Linked DNA regions of Homo sapiens: all the other regions are linked to region 1. Evidence: fine-mapped expression QTL. A gene starts in region 1. Each other region holds a variant in brackets. All regions are shown on one strand. Distances are from middle to middle. Region 1 holds the start of INTS10 (integrator complex subunit 10). Region 2 holds the start of LOC124901901 (a long non-coding RNA gene). Region 3 has its middle 77 kb from the start of LPL. Region 4 overlaps INTS10 (integrator complex subunit 10). Region 5 overlaps LOC107986920 (a long non-coding RNA gene). Region 6 holds the start of CSGALNACT1 (chondroitin sulfate N-acetylgalactosaminyltransferase 1).

What was found. PIP is the estimated chance that this variant, and not a neighbour inherited with it, causes the effect.
Region 2: its variant is fine-mapped to the expression of INTS10 in blood mononuclear cells (TOPMed, PIP above 0.99). The same link has a PIP of 0.9 or more in monocytes after R848 and whole blood.
Region 3: its variant is fine-mapped to the expression of INTS10 in whole blood (INTERVAL, PIP 0.98).
Region 4: its variant is fine-mapped to the expression of INTS10 in unexposed skin (GTEx, PIP above 0.99). The same link has a PIP of 0.9 or more in NK cells, Th17 cells, Th2 cells, esophagus mucosa, ileum and memory regulatory T cells.
Region 5: its variant is fine-mapped to the expression of INTS10 in testis (GTEx, PIP above 0.99).
Region 6: its variant is fine-mapped to the expression of INTS10 in whole blood (INTERVAL, PIP above 0.99).

What each region holds. Positions count from the first base shown.
Region 1 is chr8:19,814,760-19,819,744 of GRCh38, reverse strand. It overlaps INTS10 (integrator complex subunit 10), which reads right to left and starts at 2,329. Exons shown (of 17, transcript NM_018142.4): 1 at 2,079-2,329; 2 at 1,403-1,470; 3 at 69-172. The coding sequence starts at 2,207. RefSeq lists enhancers at 1,389-1,478, 1,689-1,778, 2,279-2,338, 2,379-2,458 and silencers at 1,959-2,088, 2,609-2,748.
Region 2 is chr8:19,851,000-19,855,984 of GRCh38, reverse strand. INTS10 (integrator complex subunit 10) reads right to left here. Exons shown (of 17, transcript NM_018142.4): 17 at 3,918-4,336. The coding sequence ends at 4,180. It overlaps LOC124901901 (a long non-coding RNA gene), which reads right to left and starts at 2,088. Exons shown (of 2, transcript XR_007060843.1): 1 at 872-2,088. The variant A/G (reference allele first, on the strand shown) is at 3,028.
Region 3 is chr8:20,014,241-20,019,225 of GRCh38, reverse strand. No RefSeq gene overlaps it. Among named protein-coding and RNA genes, the nearest start is that of LPL, 77 kb to the right of the region's middle. The variant A/G (reference allele first, on the strand shown) is at 2,728.
Region 4 is chr8:19,842,767-19,846,766 of GRCh38, reverse strand. It overlaps INTS10 (integrator complex subunit 10), which reads right to left. Exons shown (of 17, transcript NM_018142.4): 14 at 3,840-3,919; 15 at 2,529-2,691; 16 at 970-1,063. Among named protein-coding and RNA genes, the nearest start is that of INTS10, 27 kb to the right of the region's middle. RefSeq lists an enhancer at 2,739-2,838. The variant C/G (reference allele first, on the strand shown) is at 2,277.
Region 5 is chr8:19,767,015-19,771,999 of GRCh38, reverse strand. The region is part of intron 2 of LOC107986920 (a long non-coding RNA gene); the gene reads left to right. Among named protein-coding and RNA genes, the nearest start is that of CSGALNACT1, 12 kb to the right of the region's middle. The variant C/T (reference allele first, on the strand shown) is at 2,976.
Region 6 is chr8:19,753,072-19,757,759 of GRCh38, reverse strand. It overlaps CSGALNACT1 (chondroitin sulfate N-acetylgalactosaminyltransferase 1), which reads left to right and starts at 483. Exons shown (of 9, transcript NM_001354483.2): 1 at 483-574. The variant C/T (reference allele first, on the strand shown) is at 2,387.

The DNA of each region.
Region 1 (4,985 bases):
TTGTGTGTGAAATTACTATATATGATTTGGTATTCCCGAAATGGTAACTTATACACCATTATTCTTACTTCTTAAAAATTGGGTTTGTTTGTCCTGTGAATCGTTCCTTAATGCTGATGTAATAATGCTGATTTCTCTCCACACCACCGGCTGGTCTGGGAAATTCACAAACCTATTTTTAAAATAAATACATTAAATTAAAATGTCAAAGTCTATACAGTATCCAAAAGAAAAAACGTTAGCATTTGGTGAAAAAGTTTCCTTTATTCCAAGTGAATGCTTAGACGTGCCAAAACAAACCAAAATAAAAATGTAAAAATAAGAATTACTTGATTTATAAAAATGAGAGTACTCACATAAGTCTTTAGTGGGTTTTATAGGTGAAAAGACAAGTAACCATAACATAGAAAGAGCTTCTAAAAGTCAACAAGAATAAAACAAACTATTTGAAAGAAAAAATAGGCAAAGGCAAATCACAGAATACACACAGCCAAAGAGAACAGTTGAAACAATACTGAATCTTATTAACAGTATGAGTAGTACAAATTTTTTTTTAAAATAGCAAGATACCATTTTCTCCTATCACAGTGACAAGAACTAAAAAGAGACTAATAATATCCAGTGTTGGGAAGGGTATGGGAAAACACACTCTTTATACACCATTGGTGGTAATGTAGACTGGGATCGCACATTTTGGAGAGTAATTTCATAGCGTATCAAATTTTCAAATGCGCATAAACTTTGACTATGAAAATGTCTTAGAATCTATTCCACAGAAAAACACCAAAATATGACTACAAAATTGTTGACACACTGAATATAATTTCAAATAATTTAAAACTATCTATTTAAATGTCTACCAAGAAGAGAGTGTCTACGAAATACTACACAGGCATGAAAAGGAATGAAGTGGATCTCTACATACTGATATGGGAAGGGGTCCATGAGAGTGAGTAAAGGAAACATGCTGCAGGGCAAAGGTAGTATGGTCTTCTCACTTTTGTAACCCCTTCCCCCCAAAACCTTATTTATGTATTATGCATACATGTATAGATATACTGCCTACAAAACTTAACTCTGGTTCAGTTTAGGATGCACTTTCACTTTTTGTTCTCTATAACAAGTAGTGTTTGAATTTTTGTAATGAGCACATATTATTTCTAGAATAAATTATGAAACAGAAGTTTTAACAAGGATAAAACATAAGAATAATAATTAAACTCTTCTGCAAAAGCCATGTCAGCAATTTATGGCAGGCCTGGACTCCTTACTAGGTTTGCTTTAGGTATCGAAGATATAGATGAACTTGAAGATCTTCCCCCAACTCCCACTTCTGCAGAGAGAAACAAAACCTCATGGAGAGATTCAGTGCAGTAAAAGTGATGTCAAGCGTCCCACTCACATGTCGTACAGCAGCCTCCCGGCGGTGGCGGTCCGCTCTGCATTCCGCTCGATGGTGTACATCTCATACTGCAACACACATCAGGCACCCTGGTCACTCACCCCTGCCCAGAAGGCTCCCAGCTCATCCAGCATCGCTCGTTGGCCCTCCTGCAGGAAGGGAGGGCCTGAGAGTGAAGCTCCGCCTGGTGACACAGCGCCACATACATGGCAGACTTGCCATTGGGCTTAGAGTGTGACCCTGGGGTTCACCTGCAATCTCAGGCTCCCAGGATTAAGTAGGATAATATTTCCAAAGTCGCAGGCCCTGAACAAACTGCTGCCATTATGATGAATGAAGGAGCGAATGGCCTTTTGCTAGTGGCGATCATGTGCTGTCTAGGCCAGATGGCACGCTGAGCCCCAGGGACCTAAGCACACCCGACCTCAAGCGGGATCGGCCGTCTCTCAAGTGCTGGGGAGAGGGCTCCTGGAAGGTGTAGGAGCAAGGCGGGTGAAAGGTGTAGGAGCAAGGTGTAGGATGGGAGGGGAGAGAGGAGGGGGTGGGAGGGGAGAAAGCAGGGGGCCGGGCAGGAGGCGGCAGCCCCCAGGCAGGCGCAGCTCTGGGCCAGGGCAGCCCGGGCGACGGGAGCGCGCACCTCCACGCAGAGCGGCCGCATGCACAGCCGGGACCTCACCTGGATGTTAAAGTCTGCCGGGTAGAGGCTGCGGGCCGTGATCAGCCACGCCTTGGCTGCCCACAGGTCTTGCGGCACCAACTCCCGGGCTCGCTGCACCAGGAACTCGCAGTCCCCCTGGGCAGACATGACCCGAGCGCTCTCCAGCCGCCAGCCCGAAGCGGCCGGAACGTCCGGCTCTGGACTCTCAGCCGCCACGGCAGCCACCGCCGCCGCCGCCGCCACCGCGGGGGAGGCTACTGCGCATGTCTGGAGGCGCACGGAGGCTGGCAGAGTGGATCGGGAAAGCTTTTCCGGGTTTTGCGAGCAGTCTCCTCCCCTTGGCTCCTCGTTACCGCCCGGTCCCCTCCTCTTCTGAGAAGCCAGAGCAGTTGAACCGCTTCCAGGTCACCTCGAAAATGCGGAGAAGTGGATTTTCATTCCTGCGGGCTGCAGCGTGACCTTGGTGAAGTCAGGGAGCATGCGCGGGAGCGGGCAGGCGCCAGGCCTCTTCGCCATTTCCATCCTCTCTGGGTATTGCTCAGTTTGTCGGGGGCGGGGGCGGAGGCGGGGGCGGGGAGACGGGCGGTCCCGGGGAATGGGCGGTCCCTGGGCGTCCCCCCGGCGTGGAAGGTTGAGAAGAAGTTTGAGAGGAACAGCAGAGGGTCGGGGAGGCGGCGGGAAGCACTCTCCACCCGGGCCGGCCTGAAACACCTTCCCCGGGGGCCGCTGCCTGCGACTCACTCCCCGGGCTTCGATTTACGCGAAAACTCCTGGGGCTGGTGGGGGTGATCGTGCAAAGCGTGAGCTCCGGGGTTCCTTCTCTTTCCGAAATCCGTCCACGTTTTATTATTTCACCTTTATGCACCGGTTTCTCCAACAAACGTTTATTGAGCAACGAAGTACTTGGAAAGCGCTTTGGTGGATGCCGTCCGTGGGAGCTGCAAAGATGACTAAAACCCTGACCCAGCAAGGGTTTTATATGTTTTAAATGTTCTGGACGTGAAACCCACAGAAAGATAACTACGCTATTATTATAATTATCTCCTCCAGCCACAATCAATGTCCTTTTCACCAAAACTCCAGATTTGTTTTCCATCTAAGAGATGAAAAACATCTAGGAGATTCTCCATCTAAGAGATTCTCTTGCCTCAGCCTCTCGAGTGGCTGGGATTACAGGCGTCCACCACGACGCGCTAGCCCGGCCAATTTTTGTATTTTTAGTAGAGACGGGGTTTCACCATGTTGGCCAGGCTGGTCTGGAACTCCCGACCCCAGGTGATCCGCCCTCCTTCGCCTCCCAAAAGTGCTGAAATTACAGGCATGAGCCACCGTGCTGGGCTTCGAAGCACTGTTTAATATCTCCTACTTATGCACAGAACAGCATAACTGTATGATTACTTTATGGGCCAGGATTACTCAGTGATACAGTTATTTTGGGTTTGTAGAATAGAAGATGGTAGAAAATTGGATTTAAACGGAGTAGGATAATTTTTATGTTATAAAGTGTACAGCATAAAAGCAGATTGCTAGCTTGAATTGTTAAAATTATTTCATTGATGTTAATATATGAAGTGTAAGAATTTTCAAATGGTAAAAATGACTGATTTGGTCATTAAACTTTCTGGTTTTGGTCTTTACCAAAAATAAAAAAACAACTCCACACTTGTTCCTGAGCCTAGTGTTCTGTGGAATAACAATTGTAAATTAAGATTTTAAATTTAGAGGCTAAATAAGGAAATTCTGTTTTTGTTTGTTTGTTTGTTTTTGAGACACAGTCTTGCTCTGAAATCCAGACTGCCAGTGAGTGCAGCAGCTCGATCATGGATCACTGCAGCCTTGACCTCCCAGGCTCAAGCCATCCTCCTGTCTCAGCCTGTGGAGTAGCTGGGACTACAGGTGTGTGCCACCACATCTGGCTAATTTTAAATTTTTTTGTAGAGACACAGTCTCCCTATGTTGCTCAGGCAGTTCTTGAACTCCTGGGCTCAAGTGATCCTCCTGCTTCAGCCTCCCAAAGTGCTCGGATTACAGGCATGAGCCATTGCGCCCAGCCTCTGTATGTATTTTAGATGCCAACCTTGAGAGGGCCTCTAGACTTTTTGCCAGAATACAACGTAAGGTTTGTGGTTATTTTCTAGTCAGCTTCTTGATTTTGAATGGTCCCCAGCTAAACATTTCTCCTACAGTGTTATGCTGGCATCTCAAAGTACAGAAGGGAGGTAACACACCAAGTGAGTTTACATCTTTTGGCCTCCTTGCCATGATCTTGACTCACTGGAGACTTGAGGCGCCTAGCTCATGTTCTTCTCCATGACAACTTTTTTTTTTTTTTTTTTAAAGACGAGTTTTGCTCTTATTGTCCAGGCTAGAGTGCAGTGGCACAATCTCAGCTCACTGCAACCTCTGCCTTCCGGTTTCGAGTGATTCTACTGCCTCAGCATCCCAAGTCGCTGAGATTACAGGCGCCAGCCACCATGCCCAGCTAATTTTTTTTTTGTATTTTCAGTAGAGACGGGGTTTCACCATGTTGATCACGCTGGTCTTGAACTGCTGACCTCGTGATCCACCCACCTCGGCCTTCCAAAGTGCTGGGATTACAGGTGTGAACCACCACGCCGGCCCTTGACAACTTCTAAGTCACATAAAATGCCCTGCATCCAGCACCCGGCTTCAATTTCCGTGAGCTCAGTTCAGTGATCTGAATTAAACTCTACATTGCTTTTCCCCTTCCACTTCAAAATCTTCAAACTCCAAGTTTCCTCACATAACCTCTTAACTTCCCTGCCCTCAACTCTCTCCTTGGTTCTTTTTAATAATTTCCTCCTTTCCCTTCTCCCTGATTTTACCTTCATGGGCCTCTATCCCCTTGACACCTACATTTTCCCCTAAGTGCATCTGCCACCCTTTGGGCTTATTCCTCTCCCA
Region 2 (4,985 bases), 36 kb before region 1:
ATAGTGGCCCACACCTATAATCCTAGCACTTTAAGAGGTAGAGGTGGCCAGTTCTCTTGAATCCAGGAGTTGGAGACCAGCCTGGGCAACATGGTGAAACCCTGTCTCTATAAAACATTTTAAAATCAGTCGGGCATAATGGCATGTGCCAGTGGTCCCAGCTACTCAGAAGCTGAGGCAGGAGGATCGCTTAAGCCCAGGAGGCTGCCATGAGCCATGGTCGCGGCACTGCACTCCAGGGTGACTGTTACTCTGGGTGACAGAGCAAGACCCTGTCTCTAAAAAAATAAAAATAACTGTTCACGTTTATTTGTTTTTCACATGGATTTATCATTTATAACCCCTACAATTTATATTTAATGTTATAGAAGACTGTATTACAATTTCTGTGATTTCATATTTACAGATAAATATTTCTAATAACAATAACATTTTTCCCATAAACCTTGGGCCCCACCCCACCTGAGGAATGATTCTCTGTTTTACCCCCGCTGCCAGTCTGGGTCCCCGTGGGCCCCTCTCTAGGTTGGCCCTAGCCTCTCGTCTAAGGTGGCAGCCGGACAACTGGTCTCGACCCAGCAGCTCGAGGCCTTGAGCTAGTCCACTGTCTCAATGGGCTGTCCCTTGGCTACAGTCTAATGGGGACCCCTGGCCTAAGGCAGGCAGGGGCCTATCGATGTGAGTCTTTGGAGGTTGATGGACTGCAGAAGAGAGACCGAGCCTGGCAGACTGCTGGTCAACCCTGAGGATGCAGGGGGCTACCCATCCATCTCTGCTATCCCCACCGCTCCCCAACTTTGTCCCAGCCCAGGGTGCATCCTGGCAGGGTGGCGAGGAGGCGGGGCATTGAGTCGGGTTGCCAGGAGGGTACCTGATCACTGCCGCCCCACAGTGTGGCTCCGGGTCCGAAGTCCTAGGGATCGAGAGGGATGGATGCATAGATGCTTGGAGCCTCCATATGGGTGGACAAACCCTGGTGTCCAGGACTGACTTTCAATGGATTGCAGCGAGGGAGCTGTTCTGCTGCTTAGGAAACCCAGAGGCAGGTCTTACTAGCATCATTTTCCCCAGGAACCTGCATTTGGTGACGAGTGAGGGGCAGGTGTCTCTTTCTGGCAGTTCCCCTTTTCCCAGGAGGGACTCTACATCCAGATGGACCTAAGCGTAGGAGGAGGATGCTGTGCACGCAGGGTGCACCCCGCTGCCAGGTGAGGGGAATGTCTGGGACGAGATATCCAAGGTCAGTCAAGCCTCCTATGCACCGCTGTATCTTCTGCCTGCCTTAAGGTCATCCCGATGGTAGCTTTGCCTCATTCGTTACTCAGACAAGCAGACACCAAAAGCCTGAGCCTGCAGTTCCTTTGTTAGGGAGCAGGATTGCCATGGCAACAGTACATCTCCTGTAGGAGTCTAAATGTTACAGTGGTCCAAACCCAGCTCAAATGTTCCCTGTCACAGGGACTGGGAGCAAGAGTTGATTCCCTGAATGGATTTCAAAAAGCCAGCTCTTGGGTTCTTGAGAAAACAGCTCTGGGGGGTCACTTTGCATCTCAAAGGGCAAAGGATGTGTAATTGCAACCTTTTTAAAGTAACTATTCTAAGCGAGAGTCCAGGGGCCTATCTGCCTATCACCTGGTTTGGTCTGGAATAAATTTTGGTAGCATGGAGCTTTCTCAGGCAGGCATTTTAAGCGGGACTGGGGTCATGGCCTTAAGCTGCTGGTAGCCAAGCTAGAGTTTGGTCAGGTCTCTTAGTGCAGCGATTTGGATGGAGCCATTATGTGCTGAGAGGTCTGCAGTTTTCTCCCAGCTCCTTCTTTTTCTGCAAATTCAGTCTGAGTTTCCATTTTATTCTGTGGCCCTTTCCCTGCAGCCTCTTCACAGAGAAGTGGCACCACTGAATTTTAAAAAAGATGGTTAATCCTCTTTTAGCTAGTACCTACATTTTGGGGTATTAGAAAGTCTTGTTGTGATGTGCACTGCTCCTGAAACACTGAGCTGAGGAAGCTGTTCGTGATGGTTAATATTAGGTGTCAACTTGATTGCATTGAAGGATGCCTAGATAGCTGGTATTGTTTCTGGGTGTGTCTGTGAGGCTTTTGCCAGAGGAGATTAACATTTGAGTCAATGGATCGGGAGAGAAAGACCCACCCTCAAGCTGGGTAGACACCAGCGAGGGTAGAACAAAGTAGGCGGAAGGTGGGATAAGCTGACTTGCTGAGTCTTCTGGCTTTCATCTTTCTCCCGTGCTGGATGCTTCCTGCCTTTGGACATCAGACTCCAGGTTCTTTGGCCTTTGGACTCTTGGACTTACACCAGTGGTTGGTCATGGGCTCTCGGGCCTTTGGCCACAGACTGAAGGATGCACTGTTGGCCTCCCTGCTTTTGAGGCTTTTGGACTTGGACTGAGCCACTGTGGGCTTCCTTCTTCCTTGGCTCGCAGACGGCCTGCTGTGGAGCTTCACCTTCTGATCATGTCAGCTAATTCTCCTTAACAAACTCCCTTTCATATATACATCTATCCAATAGTTCGGTCCCTCTGAAGAACCCTAATAGTGTTAGAAAACCTAAAGGTGAGAGTGTTTAATTTGGGAGCTTTTAGGTGGCAGCACATCCCATCACTAAAAAAAGGATAGCTTATATATTTGTAATAAACTCATATTACACTAATAAACACTGCAAAACAAGCTAGTTGATATTTTTGAGATCAGATGTCTCTTATTTAAACCATCTTATTGATTTTAATATAGCTATAAAAAGGATCTTTATTTAGAAAAGATTTCTAAGACCTTTTATGCAGAGTAACTGCAAAACTTCTTAGCTCTTTCATTCTTAAATACTCCCTTGAAACAAATTTTATTGATGTTTGTCTTCTGTATAATTTCATGAAGAGCAAAAGGAAAATAAAATTAGCCTAATTAAAAAAAAAAATTAGCCTAATAGCTAATGTTGGCCAGCACTAACTACACTCAAGGCCCTCTCCCAAGCATTTCACGTGGAGCAACATTTCATCCTCCCAATAACCAGC[A/G]AGGGGAGGACCACTCAGCTCCGTTTTCAGACAAAGAGCTTGAGGCACACAGAAGTTACCTTGTCCACGGTCACATAGCAAGTAAGGGCAGGGCAAAGCCAGGATGCAAAGCCACACAAGGCCACCTGGCTCCAAAGCCCCTGGGTAGAAACCACTGGGCCACCCTGGCACAGCAGCAGGGACTTCCTGGAGCCAGACAGCAATGGGGAGGCTGCTCTGCCACACCTTGCCTCTCACCTCCACTTCCTGTCCTGGGCTTTTCAGCAGCCCTGAGCACCTCTCCTTCAGGGGACCATCAGTGGGAGAGGTCAGGCTCAAATTCATTTTTACATAAATGTTTTTGGTGTTAAAACTTCCCGAATGAGGCCAGGTATGGTGGCTCATGCCTGTTATACCAACACTTTGGGAGGCTGAGGTGGGATTGCTGGAGGCCAGATGTTTGAGACCCACCTGAGTAACATAGTGAGACCCTGTCTCTACATAAAATTAAAAAAAAATAGCTGAGCATGGTGGTGTATACTTGTAGTCCCAGCTACTTGGGAGGTTGGAGGCAGGAGGATTGCTTGAGGCCAGGAGTTTGAGGCTGCAGTGAGTTATGATCGTGCCACTGCACTCTAACCTGGGTGTAGAGTGAGACCTTGTTTCTAAAAAAGAGATCACCTGAATGAAAACGTCTAATATTATGTTGATATGCAATACCGACCAAAGCCTAACTATGGAAAATAAAATCTTAAGGTCATGGAAGACATATGTCTTTTAAGTAAGTATCTATATTAGTAAAATTCATTACTCAATTCAATTATGCTGGATTTTCCCCCTTGCTATATGCTTAGAAAAGAAGAAAAATGCACCCCTGTTCAAAAACTCATAAGAATTAAATTTTTAAAAACTTCAAATTTTAGGATGATTTTTATTTACAAAACAGATTGGTACTTTTGTTTTACAAAAATTACAAAAAATGACTCTTAAAAATAGAAATAGCTTCTCAGACTCTTGGGAACTACTTTTAAGCAACCAAGGAGTTAGAACTCAGATGGTTTTCTTCTTTGTAACAGCAACAATGACCACGGCTCTGTGCCATGGCAATCACTGCTGAGTGTCTTCTCCTACAATTACACAGGCCCGAGCTGTGTCTGGTGGAAAGGTCTCCACTCAGGTCAGAGTCTGAAGGAGCAAGATCTTCTCATTAATGCAGAACCTGTGCAGAACCACCATCAGATTCTCTCCACAGCGGGAGACCTGGCGCTCCATGGCCAGGCGAAAGTCCTCCTTCACGCCTTTGGTGATGCCTCGAGTTACAGTGTGGTGCCTGAGGTCAGCAATAGGGAAACAGACAAAGACCAGGGGTTAGCACCAGCATCGCTGATCGCTGCTACTTGGGTAGGAATAAAGCCTGCCCCATATCTAAGTATAATTTCAGATATTTTAAAAAGAACACAAGAATAGCTGCAACCAACCAAACATTCCAGCCCATTTCTCTTCAGAAAGACTTAAAACTAGACAGACATCTTTCTCACTCTATAAAAGGTTACTTCAAACATTTAATTGTTCAGTAAAATGCCACCTGCTTTGCCTTTGAATCAATGAAGCTCTGGTGTTATGCATCCCTACTGCTGACTGGTACACAATTCAGTTACTTAGGGCCAAATGGGTCCAGTCCACACTGGCTACAAAGAGCTCATGTCCAGCCCGGCCAGCAGACCCTCCAGAGGCAGCAGCAAGGAGGGAGGAGACCTGAATGAGCCAATCACCCAAGTGAGCTCCCACCATGGCCCCCGCAGCTGGTGCTCCCAGAAAGGTTCAGGGCTCCTGCACAGCCGGGGTCACAAGCACGTCTCTCTCCCCAGGACACCAGAATAGGGCAGCTCCTCTAAATGCTGTGCCCATCTAGACTCTCATATGTTGAAGAAAACGCAGCGGGAGGTGGGGTCCTGACACAAGAATGTGGCACAGGTCAG
Region 3 (4,985 bases), 200 kb before region 1:
GTCTTAGCCCATTTAACCTGCTATAACAAAATGGTATAAACTGGGTAGCGTATAAACAACAAAAGTTCATTTTGAAAAGTGTAAAGGCTGTGAGAAGTCCATGATCAAGGTGCTGGCAGAGTTGGCGTCTAGTAAGGGCCCACTTTCTGGTTCACAGAAGGTGGCTTCTTGCTGCATCTTCTTATGCTGGAAGCAGTAAGGTGTTTCTCTGGGGCCTCTTTCATAAGGGCACTAATCCCATTCATGAAGACTCTACCCCCCATGACCTGATCACCTCCCAAAGGTCCTACCTTCTAATACTATCACCTTGGTGATTAGGTTTCAGCATATGAATTTGGAGGGACACAAACATTCACACCATTGCACCTGGATAGCTGCAGTGGCCTACAAGCTTCCTACTCTCACTCTTGGCCATCTAAAATCATCTTTTTTTTTCTTATATAGTTGAAGTCTTGCTCTATTACCCAGGGTGGAGTGCAGTGTGCAGTGGTGTAACCACTGCTCACTGCACCCTCAAACTCCTGGATTCGAGCAATCCTCCACCTCAGCTTCCCAAGTAGCTGGGACTGCAGGCCTGCACCATCACACCTGGCTAATTTTTGAAATTTTTTTTAGAGAAAGCGTCTCGCTATGCTGCCCAGGCTAGTCTTGAACTCCTGACCTCAAGCCATCTTCCTGCTTTGGCCTCGCAAATTGCTGAGATTACAGGCATGGGCCACCATGTGTGGCCAAAAATCATCTTTTTAAAAGACGTCAAATCATGTCGTTCCTCTGTTTAAATGCTTCTAGTGCTTCCCAATGCACTTTACTTTTTCTTTATTTTATTTTATTATTATTTTGAGACAGAGTCTAGTTCTGTCACCCAGGCTGCAGTGCAGTGGCCTATCTTGGCTCACTGCAACCTCCACCTCCTGGGTTCAAGCAATTCTCCTGCCTCAGCCTACCAAGTAGGTGGGATTACAGGTGCCTACCACCATGCCTGGCTCATTTTTGTATTTTTTTTTTTTTTTTAGTAGAGATGGGGTTTCACCATGTTGGCCAGGCTGGTGTCGAACTCCTGACCTCAGGTGATCCACCTGCCTTGGCCTCCCAAAGTGCTGGGATTACAGGCGTGAGACACAGCACCTGGCCCTGTTGCGCTTTAAATAAGATCCAGTTTTCTCACCATGTGCGGCAAGGCTTTCATGATCATTCCTCTGTTATCTCTCTTTCCTAACCTCCTCTGCTACCACTGGACTGTGCCCTAACCCACTCCACTCCCCAGCTCACTATGCTCTAGACTTCTGCGGAACACCAAGCTATTCGTGCATTAGAATATTTGCGCGGGTCGCCCCCAATCCCCACCTGGAAGGCTTTTCCTCTTGCTCAGTCCATGGCTCACTCCCTCCTGTTATTTAGGTCTTAGTATAAATGTCACCTCCTCACTGAGGCCTTCCTTGTTCACCTAATTAATGTAGCACCAGGTATGATTTCATCAGAGCACGCAGCACATGCTGTTAGCTATATATGGCCAAAGATAATATCTACCAGGCAATTAGGGAGATTTTATTCAAGTTATTGCCATAGGAAGAACAGTTATTAATGAGGAAAGGAAATGAAGGGAACTGGAGTTTTATAGAGGCTGGAAAACAAAGTCGTTAGCAGTTTTAGGGGAGTCATGAGGACGGACCCTGGGGAATACACAGAGAAGGGTGGGCCTTTGTGGCTAATTGTTTCTTAGAACATAACACGATTTCTTAATCACTGACGCTTTCTATGAGCACAGGGCTCAAAGTTAAAATTCCCTCTTTCCCTTCCTCTGTCTTTCTCTCTCCTCTCTTTTTTCCCCCTCTTTGTTGACAGATTTATAGATGTTTTAAATAAAACTTTTAATACGATTTCAGTAGAATTCAATGAGATGCCCAAGAGATGGCTTTTTCTGTTTAAAATCACTTTTGGCCAAGCGTGGTGGCTCCTGCCTATAATCCCAGCACTTTGCAGGGCTGAGGCAGGAGGATCACTTAAGCCCAGGAGTTCAAGACCAGCCTGGGTAACATAGTGAGACCCCTGTCTCTACAAAAAATAAAAAATGTACCTGGTCATGGTGGTGGCACACCTGTGGTCCTAACTACTCACAGGCTAAGGTGACTAAGGCTCACTTGAGCCCGGGAGTTTGAGGCTGCAGTGAGCCATGATGGTGCCACTGTGCTCTGGCCTGGGTGAAGGAGTGAGAGTCCATCTCAAAAGAAAAACAAAATTAAAAAAATGCTAAGATAAATATTGTACAAGAAAAAAATAAATAAAAAAACATTTAAAGGTGGCATTGGGTAACTTCTTATTTATTTTGAGTTGTTTTACCTATAAATCTCAGGTCTTTAGATGAACAATGCCTTCTTGAGAATATTTGATCATAGATACAGAGATTAATCTTACAAATTTTGAAGATGATAATGAAGACTTAAGTCTAAAAGGCAAAACTTCCAAGAACTCACATTTGATAAGAAGTCAGATTTTCACAACAATACTATATATAACTATGTAGATCTCAGAGCATTAGAACTGTTGGAGAAATCAAGTATTCCAAACCCCTAATTTTACAAATGAGGAAACTGGGGCCCAGGGAAAGTGACTCGTCTAAGAGCACGCAAGTTAGGGAGAAGTCTGGGATCAGTTCCCCTTGTTTCTAGCTCAGTGTTGTTTTCTATCTGTTATCTCTCTGCTTATGTAAACACAGAAACAAAAGCCAAG[A/G]GAACAATTTTGGGGGGTGGTTTCTTCTCAAAGAAAATTAAATCAAATTATAGTCATTTTAAGTTAAGAAGAGGAAAAAAAGTAGTTAAGTGAATCCTATCTGTGACTCTTCTTCTATATTGCATTTTAAACTCCTACAGATTGAGTGGAGGTTGTTGGAATGAAGTTCATTTTAACTTTGAAGTTCCAGGACTAACTTTTACAGACTCTTTATGCCCATTGCAGATTTCTCCTCGGGCAGATCATTCTGACAGCCCATGACCTGATCAAGTCTCTGCCTTGCTGGCACCTCTGCTTTTCATGGGTGAGAATCCTACTTTCAAGAAATGTTTTGGAACTTATATTAGTGAATAAACAGGAATGCCTTAAATTCTCTTATCAGTTCATTTTTAGAAACCTGATCTGAAGAAGTTATAAGTATGGTAATAAGAAACAATTGTCTTTGGCTGGGCAGAGTGGCTCACACCTGTAATCCCAGCACTTTGGGAGGCCGAGGTGGGTGGATCACTTGAGGTCAGGAGTTCAAGACCAACCTGCCTAACATGGCGAAATCCCATCTCTATTAAAAATACAAAGATTAGCCGGGTGCGGTGGCATGCGCCTGTAACCCCAGCTACTCAGGAGGCTGAGGAACAAGAATCGCTTGAACCTGGGAGGCAGAGATTGCAGTGAGCCGAGATCACGCCTCTGCACTCCAGCCTAGGCAACAGAGCAAGGCTCTGTCTCAAAAAAAAAAAAAAAAAAGAAACAGTTTCTTAAAGGGCTACTTAAGTGGTTTAAACAACTTCCCAGGATATTAGTTAAAATATAAGCAAATATTTTATGTGTATATTTAGATCAGATATCTCAGCCCAAGCTCCTTTCCCTCCCTGTTGGAAGTAGCAAAATCTCAAAATGGGGGAGTCGAAATTAATGAGTGTTTACAGTGCTTTCAATATATGGTCCCTAGCATTTTTTTTAAGAAGCAGCTTTTAATATGCCATATACTAGATGTGTTGTTGACATTTAATAAATGTCAAAAAAAAGAACATTTCTCACTGAACAAACAGTTTGGATTACAATCTTTTTATAGGATTGCTTTCTTCCTAAGATATACTTATAAAAGTCCAAGATCCTTTAGGTGAGTTCATTCTTAAACATTTTAAGAAAATAAGAAATTTAAAGTTCAGTTTGTGCAGATTGATACCTAAAAAGGCTAGGTCATGGTCCAAACAATTAGTACGTCTTGAACATTGACTATCTGCAAAGTACTGTCTTAGGCTAGACAGAGAGAAAGGCTGAAACAGGTATGACTGAAACAGAGTTCCAATCTTCAAGAAGCTTTCAATCCTGTAGGAGACATAAGACATATAATAAGAGATATCCTTAATGCAAAGTAATCTGTAATGTGCTCAAAAATAGGCAAAAACTCTAGGATATGGCATTTCAGAGATAGCTAATGGGAATGCAGCAGCAAACGAAATAAAATCCTTATGCCTTACCTGAGCCCAGGAAGGTCGAGGCTGCAGTGAGCTGTGATTACACCACTGCACTCCAACCTGGGCAACAGAGCAAGACCCTGTCTCAAAAAAATTAAAATAAAAATTAAAAAACTAAAATTCTTATCCTCAGGGAGAATGCGTTCTACTGGGAGACGCTTTATATCTCTGGCCATATCTATACTTGTGTTGATCTATATGTATATATGATGTCAGGTGCAGAGTAAGGGCATGGAGAGAGAAGAGTGACCCAAGGAGGTCTCCACTGATACAGTGATATTTGGGCAGAGATTTGTAAGGAAATAAGGCAGGAGGAGTATCTGGAGGAGAAAAGCATTCTCGGCAGGTGGGACCCATGTACCAGGGACATTCCTGTGTGGCTAGAACTTACTGTTCTGAGGGAGATGGGAAGGTTGGTTAAGAGACGTGCCTGGAAAGATAGCTAGGGCCAGATTGTCCCTCCCCAGTGCCAAGGGCTTTGAAGGTCCTTGAAAAGACCCTGGCTTTTGCTTCAAGTGAGATGTGAGCTGCTGACCGACTTTGAGCAGAGCAGCGGCGCGATCTGACTTGGGTTCCAGAAGGATCACTCTGACAACTGTGGGAGACAAGGGCAGAGGAAGGAAGCCCAGTTAGGGGACATGTTAGTTTCCCAGGGCTGCATAACGAATTACTATACAAATTACTCATACCGCTTAGAACAAGTCCATTTGTTTTCTCACAGTTCTAGGAGCCAGAAATCCAAAATCAGGGTGACGGTAGGATTGGTTCGGAGGGAGAATT
Region 4 (4,000 bases), 28 kb before region 1:
GAAGCAAGATTTATGAGCTATTTAAAAATCATAAATGGTCACTAATTTGGCATTTTCATCTGGGCCAACCCGGAATTTTAGTAACATCTTGTGAGTTCAGGGGAGCATGGTGGAGACCAACCACTCCCACCATCATTTCTTGGGACAGGTGTGTTCTTAGAGGCACTATACCTGGCTATTAATACTTCGTTGTTATGTAAGTCATGAGGACTGCATAGGAGGGCTTCATAGGTAGTTTATAAATAAAAAGTCTGTAGTTTTTCCTAAAGAATTTTTCTAACCCAGCACAATTTTAATTAAGCACAGCTGTTTTGTTTGTTTGTTTTTTTTTTTGAGATGGAGTTTCACTCTTGTTGCCCAGGCTGGAGTGTAATGGCGCGACCTCGGCTCACTGCAACCTCCACCTCCTGGGTTCAAGCGGTTCTCCTGCCTCAGCCTCCCAAGTAGCTGGGATTACAGGTGCCCACTATCATGCCCACATAATTTTTTTTTTTTTTTTGTATTTTTAGTAGAGACGGGGTTTCACCATGTTGGCCAGGCTGGTCCTGAATTCCTGGCCTTAGGTGATCTGTCCTCCTTGGCCTCCCAAAGTGTTGAGATTACAGGCGTGAGCCACCATGCCTGGCCACACAACTGTTCTTAATTAAAGGCACTCTGTGACTAATCAGAAACTTATAGACTCACCCTATAAATTTTTGAAAGTAAAAGATATCATGAATGAGACTTTTGTCTAGTGAAAAAGTTGCAAATGTGACAAAAATACCCCAATTTAAGCAAAGTGTTTTAAGAAATGTAGTTAAGGAAATGCAAGTTTTTCAAAAGGTACCCAGAATCAAACTATCATAACAGAGACCAGGTTTAAAGTCCTTTGTATTAAATTTTTGATAGGTATAGACATTTACAAATACTTCATACAAAGACACAAAAGGTGAGCACTCAGCATGGAAGAGCAAAAGAGAACATGCTTACTTGATCAGCATTCCTTGATTGGGTAGTAATTCCAGATGAATTTTCCCACCTTCCTGAGTTCTCAAGTAGGCAAATTCCTCCAGCATATCAATATCTGCAGGCCAGATTCAGGTTAACCACATGTAAAAAAAGGTGCTAGTTTTCTCTGATGAGGAAATGGGGTCTCGGCAGTTGAGTAACTTGCCCATTGCCATCCCACTAAAAAAGGTGCCAGTTCTCTCTGATAAGGAAATGGGGTCTTGGCAGTTGAGTAACTTGCCCATTGCTACCCCACTAACTGCAGACTCCATATTTGAACCCAGATCTGTCTGATGCCAAAACCTGATTCTTATACCCACTAAACTCCCTCGCACAGATAACTCTTGGCATGAGATGTGCCAGGCTAAAGAGCATGAGGACAACATGTTTTCCATATCGATAATAATTAATACTACATGGTCACAAGAGCAAAATTTTTTTGTTTTCTTAATAAGAAATGAAAGAGGAGGTGAAAGTAGGGAGGATTCTTTGGTGTTACAGAACATAAAATTCATAAAAATCAAGTGATTACTTCTTCATAACTGGGGTGCAAGGGTTTATAGATGCATCAGAGGAGGAAGCTTCTGTGAGTCACCCAAATTTTATGCAATATGTCGATGACATTCATGTATGCATTTTTCTAGTGAAAAATTATGTAACTTTCATTAGATTCTCAAAAGATATCTGTCCCAAACCATGGTTAAAAACTATTACTTTGGCCTGGTATGGTAGTGCACACCTGTGGTCCTAGCTACTCAGAAGGCTGAGGTAGGAGGGTCTCTTGAGCCCAGGAGTTTAAGACTGCAGTGAGCTATGATCACACCACTACACTCCAGCCTGGGTGACACAGCAAGACCCCAACTCTAAAAAAAAACAAAATAAAAATAAAAACTATTGCTCTGAGCACCTGAACAAGAATATCATTTATATTCCTTGCAATTCAGAAATAATGTAATAAGATAAACAATGAAGTAAAAACACCCAAATTGATAACTAACCTTTAATTCAAAGGTCTTTCCCTAATAAGCAGTGTGAAATACAGCATTACCTAATGTCAGAAGCAGCTACTGTGCTGTGCAGCATCTCTGGTGGGTACTCATTGGTAGGTAAGACAGCTATGGCAGGGTGCCCTAACAAGTGATTGCAGGGCACAGCCACTGTCCCCAGAGGCTACAGGAGGCATTCTTTTGACAGATGGAAGAAGAGGAACTATTAGTATTATATTCCTTGACTAAACCGGGCAAGCTGGACCTATCAGCAACCTGTAGGCTATTACTGGAGGCATTTTG[C/G]GTACCTTCTTAGAAGTCACCTAGCAGTGGAAAATGGAAGAGGGTTGTAAGATTCCCAATTCCTTGAATCATGTCTTTCACGACTTTCAGAAGATCAACTGCCACAGCCCCAGTTTTAATCCCCATTCCTTCTCTTCGCTGCAAAATAGTAAAAATCATTATTTCTATCCAGAATGGTTCATTCTTTTTCTATCATGTATTCATTCTAAAGAAAATCAGAATGTGTTATGCTTAAACAAGAAAAAAGGATACTTGTAACGTAATTGAAAAAATTCTCATATTGGAAATTTCCTTGTTGGCAAATTTTATTGACAGCTTTCAGGAAAAGATTCTCGCCCCGTGGCCACTCTTGCTGAAGCAACACAATCACATGCCCCAATGCCATGTCGTCTCTGTTGTCTGTGAAAGCTCTAAGCTGCAAGACAAAGATTTATACAAGACAGAAGGAAAAGGAAGTCACAGGGTAATCTGAAATACAGCAAACATCACTTTCCAAAAATATGCTGTATATGCAAATGTGTGATAAACGTCATTAGAGTAAGAAGGAAACAAAGGCACAACGAAATGGCTGGTAAACATCACAGCTGCCTTCTAAGGAGGGTGGATTCTAACCAAAGAAGCCTCAGGCTCCCTCTGCACAGCTGCTGGCAGTGTGTAGATGGCAGTTGGACATGGGTGGGCCTGAAGCTTTTGCATATGAGAATCAGGGGCAGAGAACTCTGATTCATCCTGTGTAATGGAGAAATAAATCTGAAGATTTCTTTGAAAGGGAGCAGATGGGAGTAGGTGGGCAAGAGGCCATCCAGGAGAGAACTGTTTGTAGAGAACATGGGATTGCAGAGAAGGAAAGGTGGTGAGCCACAAGGAAATAAGCAGAAGTGTGAACTAAAGAAATGGTCAAAACAGTTTTTGTTTCAAATGAGCGGTTATGCATAAAATCACACTTTAAATTGTTTTTGTTGCCCTAAAAAAGTGATATGGATGATGAGTTAAGTGGGAGTTACTGCACTGAAGTGGAGACCCAATGTTTTACTCTCTGGCCAACAAACCTTCCAGAAACAATGAAGCCTCCCTGCTCTAAGGCTCTGCTCTACCTGTAGCCAAGGGCCTTGGCGTTCTTTCAAGTCCCGGAACTTTCCCAACTGTTGGGCTGTTACTGGTGTTGATCTCAACACCTAACATGCTTAATCTAGCACATCTTTACAATGACAAACTCATCATCCCTCCATGAACCTAACCGCAATTTGTATTCCCTTTCTTTGTAGCTAATATATTTATATTGATAAAATATTTACCAAACACTACAACAGTCAAGGTTATTTGCATATCTGTCCCACTATTACACTTTTTGAGGACGGGGAGAACTTCCTACTTCTCTTTGCCTAGCGCAGTCATTATTTAATATAGATTTGTTAATTAGTAGCCCATGTGCTTTTCTAACTGTTTGGGCCTGCCCTCAAAAGTACTAAAATAACAATCCTTAGCAAGGTTCTCAAGTTCTCGAGTCATGAGAATAATATTTGAAATTACATTTTTTTTCAAGCTAATCAACTTTAAGCTTACCTTAAAACAGGCTAACATTAAATGGAGGCAGTATGGCATGATAGCCTTGCTGGTACAAGGCAGGAGCTTCAGATCCGAACCTAACAGAAGTCCACAATGTTAGGTTAATGTATGTTATTATCAAAGATAACAGCTTTGAAAGGCAACTGTTTAAGATGCTT
Region 5 (4,985 bases), 48 kb after region 1:
TGGGATCATGTTTCAATACAGGATTTTTGGGGAAATACAAATGTTCAGATCATAACACTAGCTAAAAAGAAAATTGCAATTAGATTCTCCACCAGTATCGTGTATCAGAATCATCTTAGACAATATTAGAAATGCAGGTTCCTGAGCCCCATCCCCAAAGGACCTCATTTCTTAGGGCTGAGCTGAAGCCAGCAGTGTGTTAGAGCCAACTTATTTCAGTTCCTGAGAGCCAACTATTAAATTTCAAGAATTTTATGAGCTCATTACTAAAAATCATTACAAATTAAATTGTAGAAGCTCACAGTTACATAAATTATGTTAAAAACAAGCATAATAAGTATACAAAACTCATCACTTCCTATTGACTTTACTACACGTTGCTATTATCTGTGCTTTTGAGGTTATGTCTATTACTTCTGTGTGGTGGAGATACTGATACTGGTGTGCTACTGTACATCTCTTCCCAACTTCACATGCACTGGTAGCTTGAAATTGGCCATGTGGGAATATTTACACCATGGCATTTGTCAAATACAACCAGGCTTGATTTATTGTTTTGTTGGTTATGTAGACAATGATGGAATAAATGTTAATAATGTAGATTAAACTTAAAGTGTGTCATGCCTGTGGTTGTTACATGATAAATAGTATAAACTTAAGGAAATTATTGTCCCAGTCTTCAAAAACTATCTTCCAGTTCATCAAAGAAGTCTCTCACATCATTAATAAGTCATGTGAGATTAAGAAATGATGCTTCATTTTTACTCATTAATGTAAACAAAATTATTATTATGATTTAAGAGACAAGGTCTTGCTCTGTCATCCAGGCTAGAGTGCAGCAGTATGAACTTAGTATTCTCAAGCTCCTGGACTGTAGCACTCCTGCTGCCTCAGCCTCCTGAGTAGCTGGGACTACAAGTATATTCCATGGTGCCTGGAGAAATTTAAAAAAAAAGTTTTTTAGAGACAGGGCCTCGCTACGTTGCTTAGGCTGATCTTGAACTCCTGGCCTCAAGTAATCCTTTCATCTGAGTAAACAAAATTATTACCCAACATTCAATTGGAACTATACTTGTTCATCTCTTGCAGCCATAGGCTGACTGCAGATACAAGAGTTTAGCAAAAGCCAACAAAAGCATTTTGTAAGATTTATTACATTTACAATAAAGAATATTGGATGTATTATTACTTGTAAATTAGGTCCTACACATTCTCTTATCAGTAATATTTTCTAGCATACCTCTATATAAAACCCTGGAAACTGCATTTCAAATTAGCATCTCAGATACACTCATGCATACTAAATTTGGAGAACCACTGTTTTAGTCATTGAACAAAAAAATCAGGATCACTTAATTTAGTCTCCAAAGGTTCTTCCTGATTTTTACTGAAAGCAAGATAGAGAACATGTTCTTTCAAATGCAGAGGCCTGTTTTTTAAATTTAAAAATTAATTTTAAAGTAGTTGTAGAGAGGTATAATTAACATACAAAAAATTGGCACACTTTAGCATACGCAAGTTGCTAAGCTTCGACATATGTATACCCCCGTGAAACCATCACCACAATCAAGATTGTGAATATATCCATCCCCCCTAAAAGTTTTCCAGTACCCCTTGGTAATTCTTTCCTTCCACGCCTTCTTACATACCCCATACCCAAGTAACCACTGATCTCCTTTCTGTCGCTATGTTAGTTTGCATTTTTTAGAATTTTGTATAAATGAAATCATACAATATGTGACTTTTTTGGTATGTTTATTTTTCTCAGCATAATGATTTTGAGACCTATCCTCGTTGGTGAGCGTCTGAGTAGTTAATTCCATTTTCTGATTGAGCAGTATCCCATTTTATTATATGCCACAATTTCTTTATTTACCTGCTAAGGACATTTGGGTTGTTTACAGTTTTTGCCTGTTACAGATAATACTGCTCATGATGCAGGGCAGGCAAATCCCAACACTGGGGCTTAGCGCAGGAGTGTTCTTGGCTTCACCCAGGAAAGTATTCAAGAGTGAGTAAGGCAGTGGTGTTAGACAGCAACTTTTATTGAAATGGCAGTGTACAGCAGTGGCAAATGTACAGCTCCTTGTGGAGCAGGGATACCCCATAGGCAGTGTGACCAGAGTAGCAGCCCAGAGGCAGGTCTGCACTGACATTTATACCCACTTTTAATGACATGCAAATTGAAGGATGCATTATGCAGCAATCTTTAGAAAATGGGTGGTAACTTCTGGGCCATTGGATTGTTGCCATGGAAGGGAGTGGTAACTTCCAGGTGTTGCCATGACAGTGGTAAACTGACATAACACAGTAGTGGGTGTGTCTAATGGAAAGCTGCTTCTGCCTCATTCTGTGTTTTAGCTAGTCCTCAACTCAGTCCAGTGTCCAAGCCCTATCTCTGTAGTCAAGTCCTACCTCCTGAGTCAAGTCCTTCCTCTTACCTCACAATGAACATTTGTGTTTAGATTTTTATATTGAAATGTATTTCCCTTTCTCTTAGATAAATATCTGGGAGTAGAATGGCTGGATCATATGGCTGATATGTGTTTAACTTTTTTTTTTTTTTTTTTTTTTTGAGACAGAGTCTCACTCTGTCACCCAGGCTGGAGTCCACTGGTGCAATCTCGGCTCACTGCAACCTCCACCTCCCCCAGGTTCAAGGGATTCTTCCTGCCTCGGCCTCCTGAGTAGCTGGTATTATAGGCGCCTGCCACCAAGCCCGGATAATTTTTGTATTTTTAATAGAGACGTAGTTTTGCCGTGTTGGCCAGGCTGGTCTCAGACTCTTGACCTCAGGTGATCTGCCCGTCTTGGCCTCCCAAAGTGCTGGGATTACAGGCGTGAGCCACTGCTCCCGGCTGATACGTGTTTAACTTTTTAAGAAACTACCACTCTGTTTTCCAAAATGGCAGAAATCAATTATTTTCTTCCCTGTCTCCCTCCGTCCTTTTCTTTCTTCCTCCTTTCTTAACCCC[C/T]ACACCCCCGCAACTTATTTCTTTCTTTCTTTTGTGGTGGTGAGAAAGTATGAGTAATTAAGACTTTCATGTGAGCACTCCAAGCAAGCTAGTAATGTAACATAATTTATATCATTTAAGTAATTACTTAACATTTATTTAGTAGGAGTGGGAAAGTATTTTGTAGTAATGAACATTACCTAGAGTTAGAGTCACTTAATTTACTTCATTGGCTGATGATGAATTTGTTTAAATTTGTTTTCCACTTTTTCAGCAGTTCTAGTTTGCCCTTCCATTTCCTTTTGTGAGTTTCTGAACCAGACAACACCTTGGGAGGTATATTAAAGGGTTTAACATTTTGGATAATAAAAGATTCACTCACTTCTGTAAGTATTATGCCATGTATTATTTGGTTTTAGAATTTCAGTTGAAGGCAGCAAATTACTATTTAGCATGTATACATTGCCAAAATATTCAACAGAGTGTGTGTGTGTGTATGTGTGTGACTGTGTGCGTGCATGTGTGTGTGTGTGTGTGTGGTGGGGTGGTGTTTGTCTTCCAACTCCGAAATGCCTGTTTCAAGAGTAGTGAGACAATTACATTTTACTCGGGATAAGTGGGGCTGTATTTCCAATTTATTTTAGCGTTATGTGAGTTCCCCCTTATAGTTTCCTCTTATAGATTGTTGCTCTAAGAAGCTGCCTGGCAGACCTCTGCCTCTATCTGGCTCTGAATGTTCCCTTTGAAGAAAGAAAACCTAAAAGCTAAGACTAGGTATGCTATTATTATACAAGGAGACTTTTCAAAACCCCTAATCTAAACTAGCATAGCTTCAGTTCATTGCCAGTTAATTGTAACTAGAAATTCAGAGCCGCATCAAGGCATCTGCAAGGACATGCCCACAGGGAACCCTGACCAGAAAACATTTTTCTTTGTACGTGTGACAGCTTCTGACTTACTTCAAGATAAGGCATTATTTCCCACATTTTCTTGGAATGAGTTCGTTGGTGGCAGAACTGGAAGAGACGATGACCTAGCCAGTGCTATTGCTTACTGGAGCTTCAGGTAGCCCTCCCAGGAGGAGGTGGTTTCGGCAACCTCCTCCATCCTTGGGGAAAGAGGCAACAGGTGCAAATTCTCCCAGAAGTTACTGGACCAGTGCCCAATTCTTTGATGACTCGGCAATGTGGTGTTATTAAAATTTATTTTGTTATTTTATCTGTAATCACCATATTACTCTGAAAAATGTAACTTTTCATATAGCAGTAAAAGTTTATTATCCACCCCCAACACCCAGCCTTTTCCTGGGTGTTATTTTCCAGTGAATTGCAGAAGTTATGTAAAAGTCTTCAAAAAGCCCTTTATCAGCAAGGGAACAGTCTGTCTTTCTCTGCCCAATCAAGATAAAAGCTGTGTCTGAAGGGAAGCACTGTTTATAGGTCCTGGGACTGGTTGTCTTCCAAGATGCTAGTAAAAAAGAAAAAAAAAGTAGGAAGGAGAAGTATCTGTTCTGTGAGAGGGAAAAGAAACAAACACACAAAGAGCTTCCTTATTTTAGTTCTGTGAACACTGTTGATATGACTCTAGTTATTGGCTTAATAAAATGAGAGTACACAGATGGCACTAATTATCACCCCAATGAGAGTACAAAACATGGTATGATATGAGTAAAGAATGAAGCAAATGACTGAAGGAGTATATGCATTCATCGCCATCTTGTTGGCCTTTCCATTGTGATACTTCCTCACCCTTCTGACCACACATAGCACAGCAAAGGATCACTGGACTGGGAGTTGGGTGGGCAAATCCCAATTCTGAATTTATCTTGTTCTTAGAGGAAATATTAGAGATCAGTGGTTTCCTCCTATTTTCCTCCTATTATTCTTTCCTACCAAGAACCTATTTTTATTATTTCTGCCCTGTAAATAGGATGTTTTGAAAAATATTATTAGTTACCTCTTTTATCTCAGACTGTAAGGTATGGGAACCCCAGAGTTGTGTCCATGGGAAAGGTTGGCCTGAGTTTGAATC
Region 6 (4,688 bases), 62 kb after region 1:
AAAGTTTTTGCATGGAAGTCGGCGCTCGGCGGGGAGGGCAGCCAAGGGAACAGAGCGGGTGGAGCAGGGGGATGGGGAACTCTGTCCTGCAAGAGTAAGGACCCCATGGAGATTGGACACCTCTCTCCTGCAACTCGGGCCACGCCACAGTGTCCTAGTCTCTAAACTTCTCCGGCTCTTGGTGTCCAGTCACGCGTAAACCGCCCCTGGTGTCCGAGCGCGGCCCCTTCCGAGAGTGACAGGCTTCGGCCAGGGCGCCGCTCCGACGGGCGCAGGGACGCACTGCAGAGAGGCCGTGGGTGACGCGGAGGTACGCGGCCAACCGCGACCCCAGCCCGGCCTTGGCCGCCCCCGCCGGACCTACCCTGCGGCGGGGCGCCAGGCTTGGCCGCTGTTGCGCCCGCCCGCCCGAGCCGCCGCCGCCGCCGCTGCTCCCCGCCCCCGGGGTCCCTGGAGGCTCCGCGGCTGCCGGAGCGGGAGGTGGAGCCGAGTCCGCGGCGGCCGCGCAGGAGGGAAAGTTCAGCGACGGCGGCAGCGGCCGGAGCCGGGCCGGGCAGCTAGCAGGGCGCTTCGGGTGAGTCGGGTCCCCTCCCGGGCCAGCCGGGCGCGGTGTGCCGCGCGGGGGCGTCAGTGGCGCCGGCAGATCCCCACAGCCCCGCGCGCCTAGCTCGCGCCCGCCCACCCCGCGACCTCGGGGTGGCTCGTGCAGCTGCGGAGGACGGTGCCGCGCCTGGCCTCCCTCCGCCGCTGCCCGCCGGGGGCCCAGGGCACGGGCAGGGGCCGGGGACCGGCTTGGCAGGCGGAGGGCGCGGCGCCTCCAGGTGGGCGCGCGGGGACGCGGAGGGAGCTTCCAGGGAGGGTCCGGGGCCGCTGCGCTCCCGGGGTCGGTTTGGCTTCACCAGCGTTTCTCGTGGCCTTCCGCTGTCTGATTGCTTTCTGCAAAACCCACTGAAAAGTAGCCTTTCCACGTGCCGCGCGATGACTGCGGTTATTGTATTATTGTGGCTGGGATGGAGAGGGTGGAGGGGGCGTGACGAGGGTGGCCGGTGGGCAGCGCGCTCGCCTGCCCGGGACCGGGCTAGTGGGGGATGTGGCTGAGGGTCACCGCTGCCCGAACATGCCCAGGGGACGTGCGATCGGTGGGCAGAAGCTGTTCGAGGGCATGATCTTGGGGTGGGATGGGGGCTAGAAGGGCGGGGAGGAGAGGAAAGCTGTAGGAAGCGGAGGCAAAGTTGTTTGTTTCCGTCGCACTTCCTGCACCTGCATTCCTGTCAGAGATTTTGAAGTTATCTTTTCATCGATGAGCAAAGAATGGTGAGAAAGGAAGAGATGTTAACAGCACTGTGCCTGCCAAAACAGTGAGCCTCGGGAAATACTCATAAGTGAAATACTAATAAAAAGCATGGAGTGGTTAAATTTCACAAACTCCACTTTTCTTCTGGTTTCAAAGCCTTGGTGCAGTTTTTACTTAACGTCATTAGATACGTCTAGATAATAAAGGTAATGAAGTGTTCTTTCACGGTTTTTTTTTTTAAACTGGAAATTTAAATTTAATTCTGTAGGATTTCGTCGACATTGTTCCTACAAGAAAGTCAAATTACCTTGGTGTTACTTGCAACAGTGAGCATTAATAAGCCCTGTGCAGTGCTGAAATGTTGCTAATTGGAGGGAGAAAGGTCCTTCAAACTTGGAAATAGACGCAGAAAGGCAAGATGAATTTTTATGTAAGCCTTAGGCATAAAAGGCGACTTGAACACGTTTTGTAATAGTGCATAATACACAGGGGACTAGGTGTTGGGCTGCCGGAAGATGGTCAATTCCTAGAAAGCAAGAGACGGGCCATACCCATTGTAAGATCACCGTACATATTTAATAATTCGTCTGCCTTGAGCTGCCACACCATATGTACTCCACATAATACAATATCAAAATACTTTAATCCTGTTCATCTTTGTGTGCTAAATCTTATATGTCTATTTGTAAAATGTATTAGTGGGTTTTAAAGCAGAATCTCCGACATTTGGATTCATCCGTTTACATTACAGTGCAGTGAGCTTGTGTCTTTGCTGTTCCAGAGACCTGAGCTCCAGGCGGCTTCTTCCACTTATTAATTGCATGACCTTGGGCAAGTTACTTCCCCTTTCCTAGCCTTGGTGTCCTAATTTGTAAAATGCCAATAGTATTCCTCACCTTATAGAGATGTTTAGCAGGAGGAAATTACATTTGGGAACTTATCCTAGTGCCCCGAGCACACAGTATGCACTTCATAAATGTTGTCTTTTTTTTTTTTTTTTTTTTTTTTTGTCTTTCTTTACATTTAGGGATCCCCAACTCCAGCATGTTTCAACATTTAAAAAAAATTGTAAAAATTCCTTCTTCTTTGTAA[C/T]CCTACTTTCTATTCATTTATCTATTGATTATTTATTGGAGAATCTCAGATACTGCCCAGTATAGGTGTTGAAAATAAGGAGTTGAAACTTTGGGGCAATACTTCAGCTTTTTCTTGTATCTTCCTAAGAATCCATCCTAAGTTCATATGATGATGAATGATACTTACCAATCTTCATGTTGCTCTAGCTCTGTTCTTAATGCCATGTTATTACATTAAAAAGAAATATCAGTAAGGTCTGCAAGGGTCCTCATCTTTCCTCTTTCCTCCATGTCTAACACAGTGCCTGGCAGGGCATAAGGACTAAATAAATATTTGTTGATTTAAAATACAGAATGTAATGAAGTTATTCTTTGGATCACATCCTTCTTTTAATAATTCCTGATGAAAGGACCTTGAGATTCTAAATGTTAGCCCTACTATATATTAGGGCTAATAGAGGTTATTACAGAGGCAAAGCTAGGGTAGACTTTATTACCTATTGATTTTGCATTCATGATGAAGCAGTCTTATAAAACCTATAAAGCCGGGTTGGAGAGGAGCTTCGCCACTAGGGGACCTCTTCAGCATAGTGTATCACCCCAGGCTGTCATTTATTACCATTATCCTGTCCTTTAAGGTAGCAAAGAAATTTAACTTCCTGGGTTCACGACATGGAATACTTTATTAGAAAAGGGCAACCTTGTGTCAAAAGCATTAGCCAAAGGCCTAAAAATAAATTAAAGTGGTCTTAAATGATGGATTTGGTACTGTTTTTAATAATTTTAGAGTTAAGGGCTTAAAAGAGATGTAAGAATTTGGATTTGTATTTTATATATCCTAATTTCCAAATATATGCTTTTTTAAACTTTGAAAATATATATGTATATGGTTTTCATCTAGGTATTTCAGTGGTTTTCTTTGTATGTCTTTGGTACAGCTTATTTTTATCTTTTAATGTGTTTAAAATGGTTTTATTTCCTAAATAGATATTTGTATCATTAACAGCAAAAAAGTTGTTTTTCAAGGAATTTTATCTGGCTAGCAGAAGCTTCTGGTTATCTGTCCTTTTTAAAAAATGTCTCACATCTATAATCCCAGCGCTTTGGGAGGCTGAGGCAGGCAGATACCTTGAGGTAAGGAGTTTGAGACCAGCCTGGCCAACAGGGCGAAACCCCACCTCTACTAAAAATACAAAAATTAGCTGGGCATGGTGGCACATGCCTGTAATCCTAGCTACCCGGGAGGCTGAGGCAGGAGAATCGCCTGAACCAGGGAGGCGGAGGTTGCATTGAGCTGAGATCAGGCCACTGCCCTCCAGCCTGGGCAACAGAGCGAGACTGAAAAAAGAAAATGGAGCCACATTGAATCTCACCTTTAAAAAGTGTTTTATCACATTCCAAGATGCATCACTGAAAGTCACCTTTCTTCTATGTGTTTTTGAGAAGACTTCTTATTTCTAAATTCTAATGTGAATGAAGTTAGTCGAGCTTGAGAATATTTATTGAACAACTCCAAGGTGTTTTTATTTGTTTGTGTTTTTATTTGCCAGAAATAATTTGCTATTTGGTAGAAAAATTACTGACAATGTATATAAACAAACATTATTACTGAAAATATTGCCATATTGTATGTAAATGAATGAGAACATTATATTTTCAGGTTTTCCATGAAACTTAATTCGAGTGACAAACTAAATACCTTTAATCTGTAAGTAAAATTAGAAACAGTTAGACCCAGGTGTGGTGGTCCCAGCTACTTGGGAGGCTGAGGTAGTAGGATTTCTGAAGCACTCAATATATCAAAACCACGCTAGGCAATATCTCAAGACCTTGTCTCAGAAGCAAATGGACAAAACCCAACGAAACCACAACAAAAACTAGCAACAGAGAAAAGTTTAGCCCATTGTAGGTCTTAAATCTTACCAGTGGTTTTCCTGTCTTATCTAGCAGAATGTCTCTGAGTTTGGAAAATTATCAGACATCCAATTCTGATATTTACATGGCAGGATTTTACGGTAAGACAATCTGGTTTTTTTTAAAAAATCAAGGTCTAGGTCAGTAATCTTAGGAGAACAGGGTAAGAGGAATAACTTTTGGATGAAGGTTGTAGAACATTTTAAATATCATTTCCCTCTGATTAAGCTAAATGTTTTGGATTACTTTTAGGATTCTGCGCACATGAAAAGGTTATAGAGATCCCATTTGCACAGACTAATGCTTCCCCAGAACTGCAAGAGTTTGGCTTATCCTCAAACCCCCAGCTAGCAAAGGCCATGGTGTCTCCCTGCCTCTCCTTCATCTTCGCAGACTGAAGCTGAGTC